4 linked regions of the Homo sapiens genome follow. The protein of the gene in region 3 interacts with the protein of the main gene of each other region in a pairwise test. Each region holds a gene or a part of one and is shown on either strand. Other genes may lie near its edges.

Region 1 (5,708 bases), on a different chromosome or scaffold from region 3:
TGAGGAAATGCCCGAAGGGACCATTTCTAAGTGGGGCACAATGTGGGTCTTGAATGCTGATTACCTGAGTGGAAGAACTCAGGGTGCTCTTTGCTTTAAAGGATGGAGTTAGGGGGAGAGGAGAGCTTTAGAGAATGCTACCTTCAGGAATAAAAGAAGGAATCTCTCTCAAGTAGCGTCTCAGAGGACAACATAGTATGAGGAGGCAGTGAGGTTCTAGAGTCTTGGTAACTTGTCTACAGCTTATTATTATTATTATTATTATTATTATTATTATTATTATTATTATTATTTGAGACGGAGCCTCGCTCTGTTGCCCAGGCTGGAATGCAGTGACGCAATCTCAGCTCACTGCAAGCTCCGCCTCCCAGGTTCACGCCATTCTCTTGCCTTAGCCTCCTGAGTAGCTGGGACTACAGGCACCCGCCACCATGCCCGGCTAATTTATTTTTTATTTTTAGTAGAGATGGGGTTTCACTCTGTTAGCCAGGATAGTATTATTATTATTTTTGAGACAGAGTCTCACTCTGTCACCCAGGCTGGAGTGCAGTGGCTTGATCTCGACTCACTGCAACCTCTGCCTCCTGTGTTCAAGTGACTCTCCTGTCTCATCCTCCAGAGTAGTTGGGATTACAGGTGCCCACCACCACGCCTGGCTAATTTTTCTATTTTTAGTAGTTTCACCATGTTGACCAGGCTGGTCTTGAACTCCTGACCTCAAATGATCCGCCCACCTCAGCCTCCTAAAGTGCTGGGATTATAGGCGTGAGCCACAGCACCCCGTCTATTTTTTTTTTTTGGGACGGAGTCTCACTCTGTTGCCCAGGCTGGATTGCAATGGCGCAATCTTGGCTCACTGCAGCCTCCGCCTCCCAGGTTCAAGTGATTCTCCTGCCTCAGCCTTCCAAGTACCTGGGATGACAGGCAGCATGTAATGGAGGCACCATGTGATGGAGGGCATCATGCTGGGCTAATTGTTGTATTTTTGTAGAGACGGGGTTTTATCACGTTCGCCAGGCTGGTCTTCGTCTCCTCACCTCAGGTGATCCACCCGCATCAGCCTCCCAGAGTGCTGGGATTACAGGCATGAGCAACTGCACCCAGCCAGTTATTATTATTTTTGAGATGGAGTCCCACTCTGTTGCCCAGGTTGGAATGCAGTGGTGCGGTCTCAGCTCACTACACCTTCTCCACCCGGGTTCAAGCAGTTCTTGTGCCTCAGTCTCCTAAGTAGCTGGGACTACAGGAGCGCACCACCACGCCTGGCTAATTTTTGTATTTTTTTTTTTTTTGAGACGGAGTTTCGCTCTTGTCACCCAGGCTGGAGTGCAATGGCTCACGGCAACCTCCGCCTGCTGGGTTCAAGCGATTCTCCTGCCTTAGCCTCCCGAGTAGCTGGGATTACAGGCACCCACCACCGCGCCCAGCTAGTTGGTTTTTTTTTTTTTTTTTTTTTTGAGATGGAGTCTCGCTCTGTCGCCCAGGCTGGAGTGCAGTGGCGCAATCTTGGCTCACTGCAAGCTCCGCCTCCCGGGTTCACGCCATTCTCCTGCCTCAGCTTCCCAAGTAGCTGGGACTACAGGCGCCCGCCACCACCCCCGGGTAATTTTTAATATTTTTAGTAGAGACGGGGTTTCACTGTGTTAGCCAGGATGGTCTCGATCTCCTGACCTAGTGATCCGCCTGCCTCGGCCTCCCAGAGTGCTGGGATTACAGGCGTGAGCCACCGCGCCCGGCCCTGTATTTTTTTTTTAGTAGAGACGGGGTTTCACCATATGTTGGCCAGGCTGGTCTCGAACTCCTGACCTCGGGTGATCCACCTGCCTCGGCCTCCCAATGTGCAGGGATTACAAGCGTGAGCCACCACACCCGGCCCCACAGTTATTATTGAATTACCCCCACTGTCTCCTCTAAGTCAGCGGTTTGCAAATCTGAGTGTGCATCAGAATCACCTGGAAGGCTGGGCCCTACCCACAGGGTTGTGATTCAGCAGGTTGGGGGTGGAACCCGAGAATCTGCATGTCTAACAGATTCCCAGGTGATGCTGCTGGTCTGGGAACCACACTTTGTAAACCACTGACTTAAGTCAGCAAAAAACCCTTTTGAGAAGTGCTCCTCTGGCTTTGAGCTGAGGGAGAACAGAAAGGCAGGGAGGAGCACCTCCTAAGGGGTTTGTGGTGGCTCCTCTTGGAGCCTCTGGGAGTCTCAGGCTGCAGGCACACTCTCTTGTCACCCCAGAGCTTCCTCCCTCCTGGGCCTCCTGGGCCTGTGCTGTCCCCAGGTTCTTCCACCTCTTACCTTGGGTGGTGTCCTCCATCTTGATGGGCACAAGGGGGCTCTGGGGCGCTGAGTCGCCGCTCAGGGAGTAGCTGTGCTCCGCCTGGATGCCTGGCGTAGGGGAGTCCAGTTCCATGTCCAATAGAGGGCTCTTCTCATCCAGCACAGGGTCATCAAAGAAGCTGCTGAACAGGTCATTGGAGAAGTCCTCCATGTTCTCCGTAAAGTGGTCCAGGTGCTCAGGAAAGTGCTAGGGAAGGAAGAGGTGAGGGGAAGAGGGAATTCAGCTTTGCTTGGGAAGGGGGTGCAGGTGCTACTGTGGTGGTGCAGCACCCCACCATGGCCACCACTGTCCCTGCAACCTCCCATTACTGTGCCCATTCCCATTAATATCAGCAACATCACCAATCTCCCCAGTACCAACATTGCAACACCAACTCTCATCATTTCCATCATGACCGTTACCACTGTCATCCCATTCTCTCTACCACCAGCTCCACGCTCACCATTGTTATCTGCAAGGGTGAGCTCAGGATGGGATCAAAAACTCCCTGGACCAGGCAACAGGACACTGGGCTCTGTGACCTTTGTCAAATCACTTAAACTGCGTGAGTCAGTTTCTCAGTCCTTCTTACTTCCTTCATAGGCTGATGTGAAGACAAAGTAAAAGAACAACCGTGTGTCTACGCCAACAAGTTTGTTTTCCAAAGGCAATATTAGTGAATTTTGTATGATCTTTTGCTGGAATGTGGGAAGGGAGTGATGCAGGGCAGTGGGATTCTTGAGGCCTCCAGTCTCCTCAGCAGCACAGTGTCCATCTGTCCTCAAGACTTCGGGGTCTCTCTCCTTTCCCAAGCCATCCTTTATATGGAGAGGTTAGGCTCCGGAGCCCTACTATTTAGGTTCGAATGGTGGCCTCCATCCTTCTAGCTATGATTCAGTGCTGTTTAAACTGTGGGTGGTGACTCATTAATGGGTTGTGAAATCAATTTAGTGGGTCACGACCAGAATTTTAAGTAAAAATAAAACAGAAAAAAAAAAGTAGAAAATATCAGAGTGCACAGCACACAGTGGAGTTAAATACCTGGCAATTAAAAAAAATCACAGTTGTGTGTGTGAACGCACATGTGTGTACTTGGTAATGATGTAAAATATATTTCTTAGAAACAAAAAAGTCTGAAAAATCTTGGTCTCCATGATCTTGGGAAGGTCAATTAACCTCTCTGTTTCATTTCGTCCTCTGTACAGCTGGTAATATTAATAGTTCCTACCTTCCAAGATTGTCATGAGGATTAAACAAGTTAATCCACGTACAGGCCTTATAACAGTCCCTGGCACATAGTAATTACTCAATAAACGTTGCCTCTTATTGTTAGTAAAGCACTCCAGTGGCTGACATATGGTAGGTTCTTGTACATTATTTTTCTCTCTCTAAAGAATTATAAATGTGTAAAGAAATGTTTCTTTCTCTCTCTTTCTGTCTTGCTTGTGAGAGTCTCACTCTGTCACCCAGGCTGGAGTGCAGTGGCATGATTTTGGCTCACTGCAACCTCCATCTCCCGGGTTCAAGTGATTTGCATGCCTCAGCCTCCCAAGCAGCCGGGACTACAGGTGCGCACCACCACGCCCAGCTAATTTTTTGTATTTTCAGTAAAGATGGGGTTTCACCATGTTGGCTAGGCTGGTCTCAAACTCCTGGCCTCAAGTGATCTGCCCGCCTCGGCCTTCCAAAGTGCTGGGATTACAGGTGTAGGCCACCGTGCCTGTCCAATAAATGTTTCTATTGTTTGTTCCTTATTTATTGAACGAATGAATTTGCTGGTGGGTCAGAAGAGATGGGGGATGGGGGGCTGCCTTAGGTCCTGAAGCCCTGCCTGCTGAGTGGTTAAAGGCTTGTGCCAGGGGATTCCTTCAAGGTCTGGAGTTGTTGGCCCTTTCTGGCCTGGAATATTGGGAGCCTGTCCCAACCTGGAAGGTAATGAGCAGAGAAGCCTTCTGTATGAGCATAAGGTTCAGGGCCACATGAGTCTGTCTGCATGGAGTAGGAGATGAACACGAGCTCTGGAGTCACATAGACGTGCTTTTGACTCCTAGCTCCACCACTTGCTAAGTTGCTTAACTTCCCCGTGCCTCAGTTTCCTTATCCGTAAGGGGAAAATAATAGTTCCTACCTCATAGTGTTGCCATGAGGATCTAAAATTTTGTTAGATTAGTACTCACCTCATAGGAGTATGAGGGTAAAATGAGTAAATACTGTACATATAAAACACAGAACAGTGCCTGCTACAGAGTGAATGCTCGATCATTGTTAGTTATCGTCATCATGAAAACTGCAGCCCCTAAACTCTGTCCCCGAGCTGAGCTTGGAACCAATGGTGGGAGTTGTGGGGGGAATGTTTGGCCTTTCCCTCCAAACAAAGCCTGATGAGATAATCCAGGACAAAATGAGCTCAGAAGCCCCATTGGCAGGGGTACTCTCCCACTTCCCAGTTTGCCAGCAATCAATCATCATCCTACATTTCTGTTGTGCTTTTAACCCAAAGTGCTCTCCTATGCATTATTTCATTTAATCTTCACAATTATCCAATGAGACAAGACAAATGCATATTGGCATTTGACAGAGAGAGAAACTGAGGCCAAGGGCGCTAATGCAGCAGGGAGGTGCCCACCATCCCTCACTGTCCAGTCTTTTACAACTGCAGCAGACCCTCCCCGGTCCGGTAATTGCCCTGAAGCAGGGTTTGCACCCTGTTCACCTGCTGCCTTCCAGCACCTGGCTCATGATACTGGTGGAGGGACAGGGCCTTAGAACCCAGATGGCAATGCCATCAGCATACCAATTGTCCATCAATACCTGGAGTGAGGCAGTACCAGGAGGTCAGAGCTGAATGAGTTTCTAAGAATCACTGTGATCCCAGACAGAGGCCATTTACAGGGTATAACCACCCCCCAACCACCCAGCCAGCCACAGCCAGGGCCGCGCTGGCTACACCCTCCGCAGAGCCCGGGCCTGCCGGCTGGGGGCGCTTCCGCCAGTTCTCTCCCTTAGGGTCTCTCAAAGGCCTGGTGTTGGGCCCAGTGGGAGGGGGCTGTGAGCAGAGGGAGCCGGTGAGTCAGCCGCTAAGGTATTTCTCCAGCAGCTGCTTCTCAGGCGATAAGGGTTTGCCAAGCCCCTTCCTGGGGCCTGGGAGAGGAAAGATGCTTCCTCGGATCTGGGCTGGACTCCCTGAAGGCCTTGGCTCAGGCAGATGACCCAGGTTCTTCCCAGAGACCCTTTTAGGGTGCCCACAGGAAACTGCTTAGAGAGCTCAGCTGGCCCCATTGTGTGAGCAGTCCCCACCCCACCTGCTAGAAACAGCAGCCAAAACCCAGCAGGATGGAGCTTCCAGAGCAACGGGAGCCAAGTGGAAGGGGAGGGCGGCCAAGGGGCA
Region 2 (6,222 bases), on a different chromosome or scaffold from region 3:
TCAACCCACCACATGCAGCAACAGACACTACAGATAGGATATCCCTGAAAAAAAAAAGACAATTAATCTAACCACTCACCCTGCCATCAGGAGCGGCACTGTTAGGAATGATACAGATCTGCTCCATAGAGGAACTGGGTTTGTGATAGGCAAGTAAAGGATACTGGTGTCTCCTGGGAAACATGCTGTGACCTCAATATGGGCTATGTATCTTGGTTATTGGAAATATATGTATTCTCATTGTTACAGACTTAATTTTTTAATACCAATGATTTAAGGAGCCAGACTTAAGTACAGAAAGGTCTGAAGAAGCGTTTCTTAAATTAAATCCAAACTCTTCAGTAAGACAAGGCCTGATTAAGAGTAGAATGTGTGCTAACTATTCAAAGAGCTGTAGGTTTTAAGCGCCTTTTGAAATCTCACTCTGCTGAGATCATTTAGTTCAAGTCAGTACTACAATTGTTTGTGACTGTCACCAATAAAGCCAGAGGTCACATAAGAACTGGTTAAATTGCAAGACTGCAGCAGTGGCAGGAATTGATGTCATTTAGATATAGTGTTATTATTATTTTTTTTTGTTCGGGTGCTGGGCTGTAGCGGACACATCAGGAGGTAGGAAAGATAGAACAGAGGATATGCCAGCAATTTAACATGCTCATGACCCTCCCCAGTGATGCTCTTAAACTGGTTAGGTTTCTGCAGACCCTGCCAGGATCACAGAAAAGGCCAGCCCTCTGTAGGATGCAGGAGGGGAGGGGTGCTTTTCTCCTTCCAGCAAAAGGAAGCAACTCCTACTTCCCTCAACCACCTTTCTCATGGTGGGCAATCCAAATTACTGAGCAGGGAGCCATGGCCTGACAGACCTGCTCTAAATACTCAATAAGTCAGGGACAGAAGGGGCCAATGTCAGAACCAGGAGGACCCATTTCTCCCCCATAGAGCCAGGAGTTGTCTCCCTTTTGCTTCCCTGTGCTGGAAATGAATGTTTATGATGGCTGCAAGGGACAATGTGTCAAAAATATTAAATGCAGTTTTCTAATCATAACCTGTTTTTCCCTAATATATAAGCTTTTCTTCAAAGGACACAATATTTTGAACAATGTATTCCAGAAAACAGCCACCACTACTGAAGTGAGTTAGAAAGTTTACTTCTTCTTAATAATGTTATGTTTCCCATATGATGGCTGGATACTCACAGTTGGAGGAGTTTCTTGTTTGTTTTTTTAGCTAAAAATCCTAGAGTTGGCCGGGCGCAGTGGCTCATGCCTGTAATTCCAGCACTTTGGGAGGCCGAGGCGGGTGGATCACTTGAGGTCAGGAGTTCGAGACCAGCCTGGCCAACATGGTGAAATACTGTGTCTACCAAAAATATAAAAAATTACCTGGGTGTAGTGGCGAGCGCCTGTAATCCCAGCTACTCGGGAGGCTGAGGCAAGAGAATCCCTTGAACCTGGGAGGCAGAGGTTGCAGTGAGCCTAGACCATGCCACTGCACTCCAGCCTGGGTGACAGAGTGAGAGACTCCATCTCAAAAAAAAAAAATTTCTAGAGTCACAGGCCACACCAAATACATATTACTATTTGCTAAAAATGGTCTGACTCCTTAGAAAAGCATTTTTAAGCTATATGGTTGTTTTACTGCTGCTATCTTTCCATTTTAATTCACTCTAATATTTGAATTTGCTCCCAAGGCCCAACTTGAAGAAACTGCAAAATTAACAAACAGGTGACTGAGCTCCTTCCTAAGCTGAAGTGGTCATCATGCCCCATGACCTGTGAGGGCTAGAGTTCAGATACTGCCCCCCACTCTGGTTTTGTTTCTTTGAAGACCTGACTAGGGGAATATTGAAATGAGAGTGGATTGAAATAGGAAAAATATTTTCAGGATTACAACACGATTTAGCCAAATCATTGCTTTAATTTTCACAGTTAATCCCAGGAATTCCCAGTCTTCGGAAAAGACCACAATATTTCAAAGCAATTTAGTTCAGTCCAAGCAGAATCTGCAATTTCTGCATTTACTCTCCGTCAACTGGAATTGGGTCTTCAGATGACCTGGAGATAAGTTTTTGACACAAAACCTACTGAAATGCTTCCATTGATTAACTCATTTTTTCAGCAAGGATTTTCTAAGCGACTACTACATAAAGCTACAGTGCTTGGCAAGGAAGGAAGTGGGATGTCAAGTACAGGTGGTGAGATTTCTGTGGCCTGATGTGGGCACCTCTGGAAAGACACGCATTGGAGCGCGACGGGGTAGCGATGGCATCCAGCAGCGTGGGTTCCCACAGCGCCGGCGCCCGGCCAAAAAGCGCGCCAGTAAAACTTTCCGCAATTCCCTCTGTGCCAAGCGCGTCCTGGGCAGCCGCACTTCGGAGGGGCAAAACTCACCCTAACTTTTGAGTGCAGAGTCAAACTTAAGGAATAGGTTAGAGTGAAGGGAAAGGGGAGCCCGGGCTGAGGAGGGAAAAGGCAGCGCATATCCCGGGGTCAGGGACAAGATCAGAAGACAAGGAAGGGCCCGATGCCAGCACCCAGCATCAGGAATGGTGCTCACCTGCGTTCCGGAGCTTGCGGTTCCTGAGCACGGAGAGGATCACCAGGAGGTTGCCCACGACGTCCACGGCGGTGGTGACGATGAGCACCGCGGACAGCGCTGGAGCCACCCAGGGAGGTCGAGGGGTCCTGGAGGGCCGCGCGCTGCCAGCCCCCGACCAGCCCGGGCGCACTGCCCACCCGCCCGCCTCGCAGCAGTTGGCGAAGGAGCCGTTCTCTGACATCGCAGACTCTCCCGCGCTGTGCTTTGGCCACCGCGCGGCCCCGGACAGCCGCAGGGCGCGCGCAGTACTGAGCCGGGCGCTCTCTTCCCTGCCCAGCTCGCGTGTGCAAGGGAGGAGGCCAGTGGGGAGGGGTCTGGAGGAGATAACTAATTAAGCGTGGGCAGGGGATGGAGAAAAATATAGGAATGGGAGGAGGACTTGGGGTGCAGCCGTTGTAGAAGGGAGTGCGTCCCTCAGCGGTGCGCTCAGGAACAGCTGGGACCGCACAGCTGTCTCTGCCACCCCGAGCCCAGCAGGTGCCTGGCCCACCTCAGGCTGCGGAGCGCGTCTAGCTTCTGTCCCTGAGTATATAGCCACACCCGAGACCCCGATTTCCTCCACAGCGTCCCCAAGAGAAGCTGTGTCTAGGTAGGGACGTCCAACCCAGGTTGATAGACTGGAGAAGGTGCTGATGGTAGGGACCTCCCATCAGTTGTCAAGAAAGGCAAGGTTTGACGTCCCATAGGGCTGTGCAGCCCGAAAGAGAATGCAACTCCTAAGATGTGGGGACAGAGCCCAGAACAAAGTAGGGTAGACTGTTATATTCTAGGGAGCTGCAGAAAAATACGAACCTAGCCATTTTCCAAGCACTCGCTGGGTATTGTGGGGGGCATTGATGATGTCTCTACTGGGTCCTCTTTATAAAGCCAATACTTTAACATATTTACCAACATATATTTACACATAATACTTAAATAGATGTATGGCCAATATTGGGGGTTATGATGTGGTTTTTGGAGGGGTTAGGACAAGAAGAAGATTGAGGCATGATTACAATAAAGAAGGAACTCAGGTGCCCTTTATTAAAAATGTTTGAGTCGTGATCTGGTGATAATAATAATAGATAACTTCTAATGGGGGCTAATCTTATGACCCCAAAGCACTTTTCACACCCATTAGAATCACTAAAATCAAAATGACTGATTATCCTATATTTGTGGAGGAAGTTAAGCAACCAGAACCCTCATACACTGCTTTTATGAGAATGCAAAATGGTATAGCCACTTTGAAGAGCTGTCTGTTAGCTCCTAATAAAGTTAAATATACACCTATTCTATGACCAGAAGTTCCAAATGAAAAGGAAAGTATATTTCCACCAAAAGACCTGTACAAGAATGTCCAGAGCAGCCTTGTTTATAGGAGCTCAAATCTGGTAACACCTGCAATTTCCACCAACAGAAGAATGGATAAGCAAATTATGGTATGACCTTGCAATGGAATACTACTCAGCAATAAAGATGATTGACCTACACAACAGCATGGATTAATCACAAATATGTTGTATTGAACAAAAGAAGCCAGATACCAAAAAATATATACCATATTATTCCAGTTATAGGAAGTCCAAAATCAGGGAAAATTAATCTATTTTCTAATAGAAATCAGAAAAGTGGTTACATTTGAGGGTGGGTATTGAGAAACAAACACCAAAAAATTTCTGGATTGTTATTTTTACATATGTTATTTTACGTAAGTTATATTGCCCCTCTCCTTTAAAGGGGGGAAAAAAAGAAGGAAGGATGCAGTGGAGACGGAGGGGCTGATGATGCAGAGGCATGAGTGGATGTTGAAGGGAAGGGAGAGGGAAGGGAGAGGTGAAGTGAGCTCATCCTTGAAGTGAGCTAATCCAGAACTCCTTAAAGTGAGCTCATCCAAAACCCAAGGAAGAAATATTATTTGTTAGGAGAGGGAGGCTTTCTTTCTTGTAGTAGAAAGGAATCAGAAGCCAGATGCAAATTCAGATGCACTTCTAAACTGGTGTGAGGAAAGAAGAGAACTCTTGTCTGGCTTCTGTATTCTCAGGGAGATAGAGGCTACCCATTAGCCAGGATTCAGGGGAACAGTGTAGGAGATTTGAAGACAAAAAAAAGATATGAAGGAGCACTTCAGAAAGTGGAAACATTAACTAGTAAAGTATAACAGGCGTGTCAGGAGCATGAATGTCCCCCTGCAGCTTGAGATGATGGCTTCAAATGATGCCACTCAGCCTGGCCAGTGGTTGTTAATCAGCAACTTGGAGCTACTCAGGACAGGCATGGAGAAGGCAGAGTGAATTTCAGTCAGGATTGGGGTCTGCTGGGTAGGAGCAAATAACAGAAGAAAGTTCAGGGGCCTGGTGAGAAGATGGATCCTGGGGTTTACATTAATGAGGGGTGATGAGAAAACAGAGGGGCTGATGGGCTGTGAGACAAAGGAAAAGTCAAGAGATTGCAGGCCCTGTGACTTCAAGGAATTGTGGTGAGTGAATCAGAAAATGTAAGTTGTGGTGCTGAAAGGGTGAGTTGTTTGAAACTGAGATGTCTGAGGCATGTAGATTCTGTTGCTGTGAAGGCTCTGAGGGTGATTATGGGTAGTGGGTTGCTGGTGGAAGGTGAGAAAAATGTTGTTAGAGATGAGAAGGTAAAGGAACTGAGAAGTCGGGGGTGGATATTATGGTGGGGTAAGAAAAGGAAAACTATGAGTCAGGAGGCGAATCCCCAGTGAATGAGGAGGAATGACCAACATGTCCTCAGGAGAGCAACAGCAAAGGGGAAAGAGACACCAATGGGCAGTGTCAAAGCCAAGAGGCTTTTTCAGGAAGAAGAGACAGCCACGCCTTCCCTGTCTTACAGGTGCAAACACATCGTGGCACTTCTCAACTTTCACACGCCAACATAGCAATAGGTGAGTTGGACACAGTATAAGTTACCTCCATCCAGACACACCCTCTAATAACACACATTTGTTAAACTGAGCATGAAACATAGGAATTTGCCCTATGCTGCCTTGGAATGTGATTGTCCATAATAGCATATCTCAAGATAGGCACAAAGAATTGGGATGTTCACCTATCTAAGAAGTCAATGCTACATCCTGGCATGGCTGGCCAGGCTGTGCCTTAAAATGGTGGGGGAATGATACAGCCACTTTGGAAGGCAGTTTGGTGATGCACTGCAAAACAACACATACCCTTACCATCGCATCGAGCAATTGTATTCCTTAGTACTTACCCAAGTGAGTTGAAAATATATGTCCACAGAAAGACCTGCACACCGATGTTTACAGCAATTTTACTTATAATTCCCAAACTTGGAAGCAACCAAGATGTCTTTCAATAGGTGAATAAATAAACAAACTGTGTGGCACATCCAGACAATGGAATATTATTCTGTGTTAAAAAGAAATGAGCCATGATGCCATGAACACTCATGGAGGAACTGTAAATGCATATTACTAAGTGAAATAAGCCAGTCTGAAAGGGCTACATACTGTTTCTTGATTCCAATTATATGACATTCTGGAAAAGGCAAAATTATGGATACAGTAAAAAGATTAGTGGTTGCCAAGAGTTTGGGGTGAGGGAAAGATGAATAGGTTGAGCACGGAGGATTTTTAAGGCAGAGGAACTGTTTCATATGATACTA
Region 3 (5,708 bases):
CGCAAGGTACATTCTTTAAAGAGGTGCTCATTCTCAGGGCTACACTTGCACGTAGCTGCCTCACCTGCCTAGTCCCAGCTCTGCTGCTCTGGAAAGTCTCGGGAGCACATTTTTCTCCAGTAATACGTGTGGCCTACATTATCATTTCCAAATGAAGAAATTTGAGACTGGGATTCATCAAAATCACCTAGGAGGCTTTTTCTAACTACTGTGTATTTCCTCCCAAGTTTTTTTTTTAAAGACAGGGTCATACTATATTTCCCAGGCTTGACTCCTGGGCCTAAGTGATATTCCCACCTCAGCCTCCCGAGTAGTAGCTGGGACTACAGGCATGAGCAGCCACCACACTTGGCTCCTCATAGATTCTGACATAACAGCCTCTAACCCCTCATAAGAAGCACTGCCACTTCAAATACAAATATCCTGGTGTGCTAGGTAGGAGAAAAGTTCCAAGAACCAACTTACTATTTTGAGCATCAAAATGCTCAAAATAGTAAGTTTTGCAAAATGCTTTGTTACAAAATAATTTAATCCCATTGATCAAAGACTATCTGAAAACCCTTAGGGGATGAATCAGTATTTAAAAAGGTGGGACAAGGGTGCTCTTAATATCCATATTGACTAGAAGGCACAGGAATACTCTCTTCCTACAATCCACAGTCAAATGCAGGAAGCTGATATTTGCATGGAATACAAGGGCTACCTGCCAAATGCTAGCTTCCGTTGTGCCGCCCTCTTTAAACTATCATCTATCATGCCCTCTTTAAACTACCATGCTCGCTATACTAGTTGTAAAAACAGACTGGTAAAGTCAGTTCACTCTGAAGTTGCCAGTGTCCTTCCAGGGTCTTTTTTTTTTTTCCTTTTTTTAAATTTCAGAGACACAGTCTCACTCTGTCTCCCAGGCTGGAATGCAGTGGCATAATTATAGCTCACTGCAACCTGAAACTCCTGAGCTCAAGTGATCCTCTTACCTCAGCCTCCTGAGTAGCTGGGACTACAGAGGCACACCGCCACCATGCCCGGCATTTTAAGTGAAATACTTTAAGACACGTTTGACCCTAAAGTATCACACTCACAGCATTGATCCCAGAGAGCTGCTGAGAGAGCTGGAGCACAATGGAAATGATGATGGGCTGTCGGTAGCTGGACACTCTAAAGAGCTCTAGCACGGTGACTTGCTTTTCTTGTGACATCCTTGCACTCTCATCTTTCATCTCCTGGATGTCTTGGGATACATCCTGGGTGCCCCACAACCGCTGGAGGACTGGTGAAAAGAAGAAAGAGGAAAGGATAAAAGAGAATGTGCTGCCCCAAATTCATTCTTCCTGTAAGGCAGCCAGGAAAGGGCCGCACGAGGTGAGGTGATGGGTAGCATCCATTCCTTTTTTTTTTTTTGAGACAGAGTTTCACTTTTGTTGCCCAGGCTGGAGTGCAATGGCATGATCTCAGCTCCCTGCAACCTCCACTTCCCGGGTTCACACGATTCTCCTGCCTCAGCCTCCCAAGTAGCTGGGATTACAGGCATGCGCCCCCATGCCCGGCTAATTTTGTATTTTTAGTAGAGACAGGGTTTCTCCATGTTGTTTCAGGCAGGTCTTGAACTCCTGACCTCAGGTGACCCGCCTCGGCCTCTTATAATGCTGGATTACAGGCATGAGCCATCACACCCTGCCTGATAGCATCCATTCCTAAACCCGCCTTTTCACCTCATTCTTTAGGGGCTGAAAATTTTACTCAGGAGTAATCAGAACCCTCCTCACTTGGATTCTGAGAGGCAGGGAAAGAGTGTAACAGAAAGTAGGTCCAGTACAATCATCCCTAAAACAAACCACAACCATATAATTCATGTAGTAAGGTGTGAAGGATACTCACTCTGCTTAGCATTCTCCTCTTCTTTTCTGTTAATGAGCAAAAATCTGGGACTTTCAGGGCAAAATGGAAGGGCTGCACTTTGTAGGATAGCAGGAAGGATGGTAAAACCCAGTAGCAGCGGCCATAGCTCTTCAGACCCAAGGATGAATTCCAGACCAAAGATCTAGAAACCACACAAAGATAATGCTATAAACCCCATACTTCACAGGCCACAAGTTCATTAAAACACAAAAAGTTCAGAAAATCATACATTCTTTTACCATGTGAAAAAATAAACAAATTGTGTTTCTTTTCCTTTCTCTACTCAGCATGGTTTTTTTTTTTTTTTTTTTTTTGAGACGGAGTCTTGCTCTGTCACCCAGGCTGGAGATCAGTGGCACAATCTCGGCTCACTGCAAACTCTGCCTACCGGGTTCACGCCATTCTCCCGCCTCAGCCTCCGGAGTAGCTGGGACTACAGGTGCCCGCTACCACGCCCGACCAATTTTTTGTGTTTTTAGTAGAGATGGGGTTTCACCATGTTAGCCAGGCTGGTCTTCATCTGCTGACCTCGTGATCTGCCCACCTCGGCCTCCCAAAGTGCTGGGATTACAGGCGTGAGCCACAGCGCCCGGCCTCAGCCTGCTTCTTCAGCTACTATCTATTATCTAAAACTTCCATATGTAATTGAACATGTGCCAGATATTCTTCAGTGCTTTACCTATGTTAACTTTTTTAATGACCCATGAAACTAACACTCATTAAGTATGAGAAGTTCTAGAGTACCTGGGCCACCAGAATTCCAACAACGATGCCCAGCTGGTTGAGAGTGCCAAAGGCACCCCGCAGGGCAGTAGGCGAGATCTCTCCAATGTACATGGGCACAAAACCTGTGCAGAGTCCGCAGAAGAGGCCAATAACCAAGCGACCCAGGATCAGCATTTCAACCGACTTAGCTACTTTACACAGTCCCATAAAGCAGCCACCAGTGACAGCCAACAGGTTGACAATCAGCATTGAATTGCGCCTGTAAGGTTAATCAAAGACAAAGTAGAATTAGCAAAGTGAGAGGCTCCTAACTTCTCCTCTGTCCTCATTATTCTGTTCTTCTCCAGGCTCATATCATCCCTTTTTTTTTTAATCTAACTTTTGTTTTTCACTTTCTATTATCAGAACATTTCTAGTTGGGAACCAGGTGTGATGGTGCCCGCCTGTAGTCCCAGGCACTCAGGGAGCTGAGGTCGGAGGTCGAAGCTGTAGTGAGCTATGATTGGGCCATTACACTCCAGCCCGGGTGACAGAGCAAGACCCTCTTTCTTGGGGGGTAAAAAAACAAAAGAACAACATAATCAAGTAAAACAGGTTGCTTTACCGATTTTTAAATGTGAATTCCAATTGCATTTCTAGAATATCTAATTGGCATTTTTTTTTTTTTTTTTTGGAGACGGAGTCTTGGTCTGTCACCCAGGCTGGAGTGCAGTGGCAGGATCTCGGCTCACTGCAACCTGCGCCTCCCAGGCTCAAGAGATTCTCCTGCCTCAGCTTCCAAGCAGCTGGGATTGCAGGCGCATGCCACCACGCCCGGCTAATTTTTTGTATTTTTAGTAGGGACAGGGTTTCACCGTGTTAGCCAGGATGGTCTCGATCTCCTGACCTTGTTATCTGCCCGCCTCAGCCTCCCAAAGTGCTGGGATTACAGGCGTGAGCCACGGCACCGGCTTTTTTTTTTTTGAGACGGGGTTTTGCTCTTTCGCCCAGGCTGGTGTGAAGTGGCCAGATCTCAGCTTACTGCACCCTCTGCACCCCCACTGCAGGTTCAAGTGATTTTCCTGCCTCAGCCTCCGGAGTAGCTGGAATTATAGGTGCCTGTCACTACGCCCGGCTAATTTTTGTATTTTTGGTAGAGACAGGGTTTTGCCATGTTGGCCAGGCTGGTCTCGAACTCCTGACCTCAGCTGATCCACTTGCCTCGGTTTCCCAAAGTGCTAGGATTACAGGGGTGAGCCACCACACCGTGCCTAATTGGCAAATTAAAACAGTTCCTTCATTAGTCATAAATGAAAATATATTCTACCTTCTAAAACATATTGTTAAGCTTCTATAGAATAAGACTTTTTTTTTGTCATTATCCACATTTGCCATAGACAAAAATAATTCCTACCAATCCTGGGTAAAATAATAAAAACATTTATAATACAAGTAAACAACTTCGGACCTTGTAAATTAAGTATGTTTCTAGAAACCCCATAGTTGAGTTTACTAGGGAATAATTCTGAACTATCCCTAGCTGGACTGCAAAGGCCAATCACTCACAGTTCATCTCTTGCACAGCTGGGTGGGAGCTCTCCAGGGTAGTAGAGCTCCAAGCAAGGGCAGTCATATTCGGGGCCAGTTGGACTAGGTTTCCCTTGATTAGAATTCAAGGTGTTCTTATTCAAAGGCATCATCACCTCCCTGCCCTAACTCTCCACACTTGTCCTCAATGTGGCTGGTAGAGCCCACTTCCTTGCCCAGTTTCTAGTCAATACCTGCCAAAGCGGTTGACGAAGAGTCCGACGGAAAAGGAGCCGATCATACCCCCGACGGAAAATATGGCCACAGACAAGGACCAGAGAGACGTGAGCAGCACCTCAGAGGGTGGGGCATTTCCCTTGTCCGTCAAAGTTTTATTGATAAATTCCTTTATGATCTGCAAAATAAAAGGGTTGGTGGAAGAACAGACTGTTACAGTTGGATGAGAACAAAAGACAAACATTAGGGATCATTTCCTTCCTAGAGAATCAAGGGAATAAATAGACAGGAATGGAAGGGGCAGATAACGTATTGGAATTTATGTTAACTCTCGCTGGAATAGTAATTCTATTTGTCCTGAAAATCCCAGTAGGTGGCAGCACCGATGTTCACAGTCTACCCCAGCCCTCTGCTAAGGGAACCCAGCTTCTTTGTAACTAACCCCTAAGGGATAATACAGGATGTGCATCACTATGAGGTGAAAGAGTGGGAGGAAGAACAGCACCGCCCAGCGTTCCGGGAGTAAGTGAGCTTTGTGCTTCGATTAGATGACCCCACTAATTTTCCCCACCAATATTGTCTCCATCTTCAGTCTTGGACAGGATAGATACAAAGTTTGTCTTAAAATCCCCTAGTTTGGGGAGGGACCCTCACTAACTGTGTTGCTCAGGATGGTGTTTAACTCCTGGACTCAAGTGATCTTTAAGCCTCAGCCTCAGGAGTAGCTGGGACTCCAGGCAGATGCCACCATGCCTGGCCTTAAATTCTGAATTCCTGAAACCCTACTTAAAGGAATAACTTCCCTATTCTAAATTCTAATTATTGTGGCCTGGCACTCACCTTCTCAGGAGCATTGATGACCCCAGTGTTGTAGCCAAATTGGAAAGAGCCGATTGTAGCAACTGTGATGGCAAATATCAGAGCTGGGGTGACCTGGAGGGAGGGAAGACAGAGGAGAGAATAGTCCTTAAAACTTGTGATTGATGACTGTTTCTTATTAATTATGGAGCTGTATTAGGAGAATTTGAGTTATGAGTGGTATGAAAAGAACATCCAATGAGATTTAGGTAATTAATGGGGAAGACAAAGGAATAGATTATACTAAAGAACTTATCTGGAGATAAGAATGTGAAGTTAACTTGGTAAAAATGAAAGAAAATTGGGGAAGGAAGAAGTTAAGAGAAACTGGGTTGGTCAGTTTGGAAATATTTAAAAACTTGCATCAGGCAAATGTAGGCATAGAATTCCACTCACGAACTGGGAGGGCAGAGAAAAAGACAGTCTCGGGTAGGATTACTAAGAATTGACCATTCTGGAAACAAATACAGTGCAGTCTGATCTGT
Region 4 (5,708 bases), on a different chromosome or scaffold from region 3:
AACCCCATCTTAAATAAACAGATTAACTGCACTAAATAATAACTCTAAATTGCTAAATCCAAAAGAGAGTTTTATTAAAAATGGTATAATCATAATAGAACCCTATTTATATATGAAAGTTAAATCAATGACAGGAAAATATGTTAACACTACAAAAGTATAAAATAATATTCTCATAAAAGTAACTTTTTAAAAGTTAAAACTTTGACTCTATTTTTATGTACTTACAGAGTATTTAAAGACCTGTAAGTGTGAAATATTGCATTCTGCCTTAAAAATAAAAATATGTTTACACATCAGAACTCTACACCAAGAATACTAACTAACAAAAGGAATTTATTCTGCTGCTGGGAATGTTATATTTAATTCATAATGCACTTTAAGTATACAGCAAGCCATTTAGTCCTTACAATATTAGTATTGTCCCAAATTAACAAGTGAGGAAACTGAGCAAATTAGGTCACTTGCCCTATGTCACACGCATGAGATGGCAAAGCCCGGGTTTTACTCCAGGCATCTGGTTCCAGAGGCCATGTGTTTCAGAGGGACACATCCCAAAAAAAATGACCTATAATAGCACTAATCTTCCATAGATAAGGAATGCTTAATCTATAAAGATATATATATATATATATATATATATATATATATATACACTATATATGTAAAACAATCTTTTAAAAAAAGTACATGGTAAAAGACTATATGATACCTACACAGACATATACACAAATGAGAACAGTTGGAAGTATTCCAAATTCAGAGGGAACAACGAAAGGAGCTAAAAAAGATAAGTAAATAATAAAAGGAAAAAATGGAATGAAAACTAACTGGCAAAAAATCTTAAAAGTAAAAATTGCAATTTAAACCACATCTTAAAATAAAAATGAGTGAACCAGAATTTTCTCTTGAAACAAAATCGTGTCCTAAGCTCCTATAGATGGATATAGGAGGCATCCAGCAAGCATTTAAATAAAGGAGGAGGGAATGAATGCAGGAAGGATGAAAGCACAATATCCCTTCCAAGAACATATTCCTAAATATGTTCAGAAAATCATCAAAGAGGAAATACTAATTACTGATTACACATTTTTATAATCCACCACTTAATAACTATTTGAGAAAACAAGTATAAATGTAAGTTAGCAGGCTAGTTCTCCAGCAGGCGTTTCTTCGAAAGACCTGAAGCCAGTGTGTTCTTCACTAATAGTTATGCCGTGTCTCTACCACTGATCAGTTTCTTTGAAATTCTCTCACTAATTCCGTCTCAATCTGCTGCTATTTCACATGTGAACTAGTTTTCACATCTCCCAGTTATTACATTGTTCTCTCCTCGTAAGATAACAACTTTAAAAAATTCTCATGATTGCTTTAAGCTCCAGCTACCATCTACCAGCCAACTTTCGCATTTCTCTTGAAAAAGTTTTCTGCTGTATAAATATGCTCCTATTTTCATACTTTTGTACCCCAAGTCTTCTCTTTGTTTGAAAATAAGAAGAACACACATTTCTAAAGTGCCTCGATAGAAAGTAATCTCTTTGAAAGTCGGAGCCGCGTTTGACCCACGCTTAGAACAGGACCTTGAATTTTGACAAACCTGCAAAAATTTACCAACCATTTACATTCTGCCTTATACTCTAGGAATGCAGTAAGTATTTATCCAGGTAAATGTTCAGCTCAATAAGCACCAAAACTACTCAGTATCAAAGCAAGTGAGCACGCTTTTAAACCGTGCACCCTAACAACTCAAATTCACCTCCATTAACTTAAATAATATTCAGCACCGTGCAAATGCATTTTCTCTCCCGTCTCTTCTTCTGAGACTGATTCCTTCAATGGCATTGCCGAAAGTGTATACAGCTCTGTAGAAAGACAAGTGTTTGAGTACTTCATCCAGAGAATCCAGCAGTTTATTTCTTATCTGCAGCATTATTTAACTGCACTAAAAATCACAGAGATATCACATACAGCGCTCAGGTTCCTGGTCACCTTGATTATTTGAGAGGGGCAGAAGTGAGGCTGCTGATCATCTTCATGAAGAGGCAGAGATGGCACCAATGATACCGTGCAGAGTTCTGTGCATTCATAAAAACGCTTCTTTAACAACAATCCACTAATTGCCTTTTTGGTACTAGAAAACTCTAAAGGAGTATGTGAGTTTCCTTTTTAGAAGAAAGGGTATTTCTGTCAGCGAGGCAACTTACAAATATGTAGAAAAAAGGGAAAGCTTAAGGCACCTTGTAAAGATCTTACCATTCATTTCAGTTATTCTGTTGATTATTTTTAAAAGGTGCTAAGGAAGAATGGGCAGAATGAGCTCCAAAGACTCTGTGGAGATTTAAAGTGACTTCCAAGGCATGATAGTTTTCAGTGTAGATGCTTTTTAAAACAGAACCATCAAATGGCAGTAAATATTAATAGAAGGAGGTCTAATCTAGGACTATTTTATCCTAGGTTAACTCCCAAAATTGCCAAGAGAAAAATGATGCTGAAGGCAAGCAAAAGTAAGCTCTATCTTATCTGTGATTAATTTAACACTGAAAATTCCTGCCAGAAATACTTTCTTACGAAATGAATAGCTGGAGGAACGAAAGATCAGACAAATTCAATCATGTATTTGAGAGTCTGAAACTACTGTCATAAGATTTACAGGGGATTCTGGGAATTACTTTGACATATTTGTAAAAACTTAGGGTTCATAACAATGTACTATACAAACCAAGATAGAAAGTCATAGAAAACTGAACAACAGCTAAGAATACAAGGGGGAAAAATCAATAAAATGTCTCTAAAGTAAAAAATTGCCTTGAATCAGTAATTTCAAATATTGTGGAAAGCAACAGGAGGGAAACTACAGCAGCGCCAACAAGAAACCTCTCGGCTTGGAGATCGCATGAAGTGGGGTTAGCTTGAAATCATTTTCCAAGTCTGTACAGTACAAGTTACGTCGTAGGTTTTTGAATGGTAGCCTGCTTGCCCAAGGAAGCTACTGTAGCTTCTAGAGCTGATTCACTTAAAATTAGAGAACAGCTGAATATCGAAATAATCAGTCTTTAAATCTCAGGCCTTCTTGCTGCAGAGAGATAATGGTTGTTACAAAAGGGAAAACTCAGACAATGGAGATTTTGTGTATTTTGCATAATGTCACAAATGGGAATTAGATTCTAAACCTTCCATTTCTGGTTGATTTCACTGTTTTCCAGTTCATATTGTCTACTTGTTTTTTTTTTTAAACATACACTTAAAAAATAAAAACAATCTAAAAAGAACTAATCACCAGATGCGTACTAGCATTAACATCATAATACTATTATTTGTACCTCATAATGATAGATAGGTGGGTAGGTAGGTGGATGGATGGATAGATGGATGGATGGACGGACGATGGGTGGCTGGATGGATGAATGGGTGGTTGGACGTATAGGTGGGTGGATGGGTAGGTAAGTGGACTGATAGGCAGAATCTAAGTTTATCCTTCTAGTATCCCTGTAAGAAAAGTGGCATCTTAAACAGCCGTGGTACATCCGAGACTTGAACCAGATCTCTGAGGCCCAAAGTCCACATTCACTCCGTACTCTATGCATCCTCTCTGAGTGGTAATGCAGAATGAATAAATATAACATTCTATAGAGACCTGAAAGCAACAAGTGCAAGAGAGGCTTCACACAGAGTCAGCCATCCAGCCATAGAGCCATTCTGGGAAACCATTTTTAAAAACATATACTGACAAGTTTACCCTACTGTGCACACAGATTAAATAATAATAATAATAAACTGCTTTTGACAGGTATCTTTCTAAAATGTATCATATCCCTGTCTTCTTAAGTAGAACACACCACTCATGATGACATCTCTCGCTGATGAATCAGGTGATGATAATACATATGTTGCTGCACTGTGCTGCTTTCAGGAGCCGTGAATGGTGAGCAGGGCTGTTCACATCTTCACAATGTAAGCACAAAAGGTTGTGCTTGTTCTGTTTCTCAGATCTGCATTTAATGAGTCTATTTCAACCCATACTGCTTGCTATTATGTGCTATTTCTTTAAATGTGTCAATCTTCCTCCTAATTTCCTGCTCATAATCTACAGGGACCTAGACACCAGTATCACAGTTTTGTGGCACTCTAAGTTAGAACAAATCCGCTGTAGGTGAGAGCCTGTCATTTTTGCTAATTTCCATTTATTGGCTGTACTCTACCTCAGTTAGATTGCCAGATAATTGAATTTTGAATAGGCAAGATAGTATTGTATTCTTGCCTGATATTTTGTAAAATAAGTTTTATTTAAGTATAATGTACATATAGAAAAATGCACGAATCATAGGTCTATAGTGCAATGATTTCCAGCAAACAGAGCACGCCCTTGTTAGGTGTACCCAGAAAACAAACAAGCCAACACAGTATTACGTGTTTTATCCTTTTCAAAGTATTCTCATATGCGCCACTTCACTACAGTCATTGCAACACTCTTATGAGGCTAAGCGGTTGGGTATTACCTGCAATTCAACAAATGTGGAAAATGAAGTTTGGTATTTAGCTTCACTGATTTCTGAAATCAGAAGGAGCACAGCAAGGATCTAATCCTAGCGTTCCATTGCGGGAATCGTCCCTTATGCTATCAAATTTACTCAGAAGATATGATATGGTAGCTTCACTTCTATTATCAAATTGTGGACAAGAGTAGAGCGAATATTCTGTTGGCACCACAGATACCAGTGGTTGTCTGCAGCCTGCGTCGGCTGTGGCTGTCCACTGTCCCCGCCATGCAGATTGTTAGCCATTTTTAATTTATTCCCTGGGAAGTCAAATGTCAACACAGTCCCTTGAGGAGAGGAAGGTGGCATAAATCACCACAATTATACCAAGCTTTCCAAAGGAAAGTGATGGTTCAAAGCCTAGATGCCTTCACATTGTCATTTCTTCCATTCTCTTCTTCCCAACATTTCATCCTTAAAGCCAACAAAATTAATTTAGCTGAAATGAGAGGTCTGAAGATCATCAAAACTTTTAATAAGCATACCAAAACTTATATTTGAATCAGCTATCCTTATCACTGTTTCAAATTACCATCCATTCCAGAAATCCTCAAATGGCTTGAACCGCACATATAAACAAAAAATCCCTATTAGAAAAATATGGAACTTCTAAAGCTGTGCGGATTAAAGGTCACTAAGGGTCTCCCATGCAGCTACAGGAATATCCTCTTAAGAGCACGTCTTAGCAAATAAAATACAAAGTGAGTGTAAGGAGTTCTTAAGTTCTTCTTCAGAAAACACAAGAAGTAAAATTGTTCAGGCGTGATCATTTTTTACTTTTTATTTTATTTTATTTTTTTGAGATGGAGTTTCACTCTTGTTGCCCAGGCTAGAGTGCAATGGCACAATCTCTGTTCACTGCAACTTCCGCCTCCCGGGTTCAAGCGATTCTCCTGCCTCAGGCTTCCAAGTAGTTGGGATTACAGCTGTGGGCCACCACATCCAGCTAATTTTTTGTATTTTTAGTAGAGACGGGGTTTCACCATGTTGGCCAGCTGGTCTCGAACTCCTGACCTCAGGCGATCCACCCACCTCGGCCTCCCAAAGTGCTGGGATTACAGGCTTGAGCCATCGCGCCCAGCCGTGAACACTTTTTAAAGGTTCTGCAGGATTCAAACTTCCCAAATGCTGCAGGTGTTGACAGCAAGGAAGCAGGGCGAGCTCTGGAGGCCA

Evidence for each region.
Region 1: the proteins of SLC2A3 (region 3) and CREB3L1 interact in binary tests that used the Homo sapiens proteins (3 or more experiments, as listed by UniProt).
Region 2: the proteins of SLC2A3 (region 3) and MTNR1B interact in a two-hybrid assay, tested with the Homo sapiens proteins (one large-scale study listed by BioGRID and IntAct).
Region 4: the proteins of SLC2A3 (region 3) and MTNR1A interact in a two-hybrid assay, tested with the Homo sapiens proteins (one large-scale study listed by BioGRID and IntAct).

Annotation. Positions count from the first base shown.
Region 1 is NC_000011.10:46,296,754-46,302,461, reverse strand, and holds part of CREB3L1 (cyclic AMP-responsive element-binding protein 3-like protein 1), read right to left. Parts: intron 2,528-5,708; coding exon 2,299-2,527; intron 1-2,298.
Region 2 is NC_000011.10:92,966,283-92,972,504, reverse strand, and holds the start of MTNR1B (melatonin receptor type 1B), read right to left. Parts: upstream 2,855-6,222; 5' UTR 2,780-2,854; coding exon 2,557-2,779; intron 1-2,556.
Region 3 is NC_000012.12:7,928,605-7,934,312, forward strand, and holds part of SLC2A3 (solute carrier family 2, facilitated glucose transporter member 3), read right to left. Parts: intron 5,299-5,708; coding exon 5,206-5,298; intron 4,544-5,205; coding exon 4,383-4,543; intron 2,882-4,382; coding exon 2,641-2,881; intron 2,039-2,640; coding exon 1,876-2,038; intron 1,268-1,875; coding exon 1,080-1,267; intron 1-1,079. UniProt on the Homo sapiens protein: Facilitative glucose transporter. Can also mediate the uptake of various other monosaccharides across the cell membrane. Mediates the uptake of glucose, 2-deoxyglucose, galactose, mannose, xylose and fucose, and probably also dehydroascorbate.
Region 4 is NC_000004.12:186,548,194-186,553,901, forward strand, and holds part of MTNR1A (melatonin receptor type 1A), read right to left. Parts: intron 1-5,708.